2 separate regions of the Homo sapiens genome follow, and region 1 is linked to region 2. Evidence: fine-mapped expression QTL. Tissue or cell type: whole blood. Region 2 holds a variant in brackets; the other region holds the start of a gene. All regions are shown on one strand. Distances are from middle to middle.

The links. PIP is the estimated chance that this variant, and not a neighbour inherited with it, causes the effect.
Region 1: KIAA0825 starts here. The variant in region 2 is fine-mapped to the expression of KIAA0825 in whole blood (INTERVAL, PIP above 0.99). The same link has a PIP of 0.9 or more in nasal epithelium.

The regions. Positions count from the first base shown.
Region 1 is chr5:94,617,285-94,619,969 of GRCh38, reverse strand. KIAA0825 reads left to right here and starts at 1,366. Exons shown (of 21, transcript NM_001145678.3): 1 at 1,366-1,470. SLF1 (SMC5/6 complex localization factor 1) reads right to left here and starts at 1,301. Exons shown (of 21, transcript NM_032290.4): 1 at 1,205-1,301. RefSeq lists enhancers at 580-689, 1,080-1,259, 1,570-1,749, 1,488-2,352.
Region 2 is chr5:94,394,982-94,397,666 of GRCh38, reverse strand. KIAA0825 reads left to right here. Exons shown (of 21, transcript NM_001145678.3): 17 at 1,158-1,566. Among named protein-coding and RNA genes, the nearest start is that of KIAA0825, 220 kb to the left of the region's middle. The variant T/C (reference allele first, on the strand shown) is at 1,387.

The DNA of each region.
Region 1 (2,685 bases), 220 kb before region 2:
GAGCCGGAGGTTGCAGTGAGCCGATAGGCACTGCACTCCAGCCTGGGCAACAGAGCAAGGCTCTGTCAAAGAAAGAAAGAAAGCAAAGGAAGGAAGGAAAGGTAAGAAAAGAAAATAAAGAAATATACTCTTTAATATAAATTCACCTCATACTAGCAACTTAGGTATTGAACACCTGCAATATACGTAATCAAACTTTCCAATAATGAGAACATCTTGCACATCCACAGGTATTTCCAAGAATTGAGGCACAACGGAATAACATAAACCAAAAAGTCCACAAGGTGCATTGTCTGTCACACATACATTGTAAATTCAGTTCAAATGTTCATTCCCAATATTTCAACAACAACAACAAAATTTTTTAATAAAGTCATTCGTCAAAAAAGAGGCTGGCGCCTCCAAAATCAAGCTCCATCTAACTCCTGAGTCAAATAATGATATGAAGTACCCGAGACGGACCAATTTTTTTTTTGTCAATATTTAATCTGAGGCTTTGGAAGTGGAAGAAATCTTAAAATAGCCACTCAGTCTTGTTTCCAGCCTTCAGGCAGCTGAAATATAAACCCCAGGAACACAGACCCTCCCTTCAGCGAAAAGTGTATGTGTGTATGTTTGTGTTTAAAGGCCTATAGCAGTCAGAGATAGGATCACTGCCGTTTTAGCAGTTTAAAAAAAAAAAATTCTACTAGAGAGGAAAGAATGACACAATTTTCTTCGTCACAGGAAAGTGGGCCTGGGGTATCCCAGCCACCTTCGCAGACGCTAAGTTATGGAAAGCAGCCAAAATTCTGGTATCAGGATGAGGCGTCCCCATGGGTTCTATGGAAACGAGAGACGCGGGGGGCCTAGCGCCTTCCAGGCGGCGGGCCGAGCGGCAGAGCTGCGCAAGCAGAAGCGGGGGAAGTGGCTCAGCCCAGTACTGCAGAGGGGCGCTCGGTGGCAGTCCCCGCAGCGGCACGGGCGAAGCGTCGCGGGGTCTGCAGCTGCAGCCCACCAACTCCGGCGCCGAGCGCGAAGTCGGGAGAGCTGGAACGAACTGCAGCTGGAGAAAGCGCGAGAGCCAGACACCGCTGCCGCTCACCCCAGCCGCTTCCTTCCTAGCCTCACAGCCGGGAGGCAGAAACTTCGGAGGTACCGCCCGGCGAAGAAACATCCCCACAGAGACAGAATACACTGTGTCTTCCTAGCTGAGCCCCTTTACCTTCCCGGTGTCTGGGATGCTTCCTTCGGTGGCAGCGGCGGCAGGGGCGACGACTGCCGCTGCAGCACTCAACTGCTTCACGAATCCGGGCTCTGGGAAACAATTTCCCGCCGCGCGCTAGGCAGCCCCGGAAGCGATAGTACCATTTCCGGGTGGTTGTCAGTGACGCTCCGGAGCCGTCGCCAGGGTGGTAATACCTGGTGCAGAGCTTGAGTCTGGCCAGCGGGTCAGGCTCTTGCTAGATCAGCACCGGAGGTGGAAGACTGGTAAGTGATTTTACTGGGTTTTCTCCTGCGCCTGATATTAATGGCTGGCCGGGGCTCTGTGCAGCATTATGGCCAGCCCGAGAAGTGAGTGGGCGAGGGTGGAACCAGAAGGAGTCCCCATCAAACCCCGTGGCGCTTGACACCCAGTGCAGCTGGAGAAGGCCCTGGGATCCCGGCTTACCGTCTTATCCACTCGCAAAATCTGTCTCCGACTTGGAACTCGACCTCGGGTCACCAAGTGTCCCTGGGCGAGGCCGAAGACACCGTGTACCGTGACTCGGCGTTGTGCCGAGTTTCTCTACCAATGATCAACGAGTTTCCTATCTCCCATTGGCAGCGTTTGGCCACTCTTGATTCCTGAGTACTGTTTCCGTAGTTCTGGGGTGCCGTGCCTGGAAGGCAGGAGGTTGGCTGAAGAAGACATCTTTTACAAACATTTAGGAAGTGAGATGGGGAGGTTCCTTCCTGATTTAGAATTAATTGAAGGTTCCTCCCGCCATTTGAATTGGATGAGAAGAACGGTCTTTGTTTTCATGGCTGAGACATAAGAGAACAAGCTTGTAATTTCATGCTTGGGCATTAGATGCATTTTTGGAAAGCAGTGATCAGTAAGTATGTGTGCTTTCAGAAAGGAATGCTTGCGTTCTGCTCCAGGCTTTGTCGATAATGAAGGATTCAGGAGAATTTTGGATGGAGGTCTGAGGTAGCCAGAATAGTTGTAAAGAGAAATTGCTTCCGACAAAGGGATAATGTGAGGAAAGGTGCTCATTTAAGATTTGAAAGATGTGATGTAGTGAACCTTGGCGACTTCTCTTAAGTAATGCAATTTCTTAGGTAACTAGTTTTCACTTGCCACCTTATATTTAGATAATTACCTCCCCACCAACCCCCGTAAAAGGCAGCTGACTGTTATTTTTTCAAAACAGTCAGTTCCCGAAAGAGTTGTAGGTACTATTGCATTTTTTTTATGGGTATGCTCCTCATACCCATAAAAACATTTTCTTTATCGGAGCATACCGATAAAGAAAAATGCAATATGTTCAATTCAAGGCCCCTGTTAACACCAGGCCAGTGTCTTCTTAACCTTTTGAGAGTAATGCAACAAACCATATTTAGGACAGCACATTGATTTTCTGGCCTTGTTGGTTAATAATTCAACAAACTTATAATCGCCCCATTAATCCCAATCTTGACATTTTGTTGAATCTTGTATTT
Region 2 (2,685 bases):
TGGCTAAACACCCTACAGAACATAGAAGAGCTCCTCACAACAAAGGATCATCCAACCCAAAGTTGAGAAACCCTGATACAGAGAAGAAGAATTAATACATTTTTCTTGGAAAATATGTCTAATCTAGTGACTCCTCTGCAATCCATGACAACTTGAGAATCATTTAAAAATTAATTGGAACAGTCTTTATAAGTTTGTAAAAACTAGGTCCAACACATATTTGAATAATCTTCTAAGGCTGTTGCATTAAATAAGATCATAAATGTGAAATAGCACCAAACAAGGAAGAACATGTGGAATCATCAGCCAAAAGGCTAAGGACTTCTTAGCAAAAACCTACATCTAAGCGATGTTAATAGAAAGTGGAAATAGCATAGGACACAAAGAAGCAAAGAGGAGAGATGGAGGTAAGCAAGAACCAATTTACTGACTCATTCATCCAACCAATATTTATTGACAACTATTATATAAGAGGTAATAAGTGCTAGGGATACGGGAATGCCTTCTCAGAGCTTATAGTTTAGAAGAGGGTGACAGTGTGCAGGAAAAGGACATAATTATTAGATGATGGGGAGTGCTATAATAAAGGCAACAAAATGGGGATCCCCAAAAGAGAGGGTCTTGGGGCTGTGATGGAAGGGTATAAATGGACTGAGATGAGATGATGAGATGAGATAAGATGGTGAGGCAAGGCTCTCTGAGGAGGTCACATTTGGGTTGAGAACTGAAAGGAGAGAAACCAGTCCTGAGGAGAGCTGAAATGATTCTGTCATGGATTCCAAGGGAGGAGGAGAAGGGCTTAAGGGGGAGTCAGAAGTACCAAAGCCTACAAAGCTGCCCAGCTGGGCACCTTTGCATTTGTTAATGAGGAGGCCACCTGGGTCCTGGACAGCTGCAGTCTTGAAAGATAAGAATATAAATTATGAGTCTAAATTTTCTAATCATTTATGAGAGAAAAAAAAAAACAGATTTTGATTTGGGGGAATTTTAGGTAGTACTGCGAGAGACCCCGGTTAGAGTTCTGTTGGAATATGTCAGGCACTTGATCTTCTTGCCAATTTTCTCCACAAAAATTAGACATCCTTATACAACACAAAACCATGCAGTGATTGAACGCAAATGCTAATATTAATCATACCTTTTCTTTTCTTCCCCAGGCTTCACAAGGCTTACTGCTCAGGCAGTATCTATTGTAATCAGCAAGTTACCTACGGTGATTGCATGTTTGCCTCCCCCAGTTAAATACTTCTTTTTTCTGTCTGAGAGAAAAATGTCAAAAAAATTTGTTGAATTGAAGAAAGCTGGCCTGCTTGTCTGGAACTTGATTGTAATTATATGTCGGATATTTGAGGACGGAAACACTGTGGAACTTTTAACAGGTGCCTC[T/C]CTTGACAGATGGAGTAAAGAAAAATTGGGTTTAATTTGTATGTGTTTGAAAAGCATCATGGGAGACCAGACAAGTATCCATAATCAAATGATCCAAAAGGTCATACAGAGCATTGAGCAGCAGAAGCCCAACTGGATTGAACGTCAATTGTTGAAAGCAAGGAAACTGAGCACTGAATGGTAAAGTGATGTTTTTCTCTTATTGGATTTCATCAAATGCTTTCACAATAACAAAATCACCAATAAATGACAATATATTGTCAGATGGGCAGCAGTAGTATTTTGCTAAATTCATGGCAGCTTTGATGAATATAAAAAAAGATAAGTATCCCATTAAAAATTGGATTGTTGCACATTTCTTGTCTTCTTAAAATGTGAACCCCATTGACACACTGGAACATTATACTTGTTTAGTCACCATCTTAAGGTTTCTGATTAAAAGGGTGGTAGTTAAACCCAGGAGAATTTAGTTTCACCCCTTTTCAGTGTGCAAACAGGTATCTAGTGGATAGCCTGGAGCATTTTGTAAATGGATTGGGCATGGAGATTAAATTAAGAAGGAATTAACGGATATAAAAGGCTTTTTATTGCTTTCTGTGTACCTGATTGTCAAAAAGGTACACATTTTTCATCTGGTAATGTAAGAATCCCAGAGGGCAACTAGGGCATATCACACTCCAGCTATAAACACACCCAGCTGTTTCTGTATGAAAATGTCAGCCTTCTCATGGGTTTGTCACTAAGAGCTAAGTGATTTGTGGTACTGCAAAGATTTTTAAGGGTCCCTGATGAGTTGAAATATGTACATAGAGTCCTCCTGTCTTTAAATTAGTCTTCAGGTATAGAATTGCATGGTATTGATAAAGGAATTCCAGCTCACATGGTCTACAGATCACTGTCAGCCCATTTTAAAAACACCGACACATGCTGTCCCTCATTCTTTAAAAATATATTCATGTTGCTAGCAGATACTAGTATAACTTTCTGCCCAAAATGACTAAAAGTCACTTGAAATATGGTTACTCTTACTAGTACATGGTAGTGATAAAGAGATCAGGCTTTGGAGTCAGATGGGCGAGTACAAATCCCTTGTAAATGGGTCATCTTGTGCAAGTTATTGAATCGCTCAAAGCCTCAGTTTCAATGATGATACCACACTGACAGAATTGTTTTGAAAAATTAAATAACATTCATGGAGTTCTTAGCATCAAGCTTGGAACTGATAGGCATTATTATGTATAAACTCTATTAAAATATATTGCATTCACTGGTTAGTATTAAGGTAACTAATAATGTTTA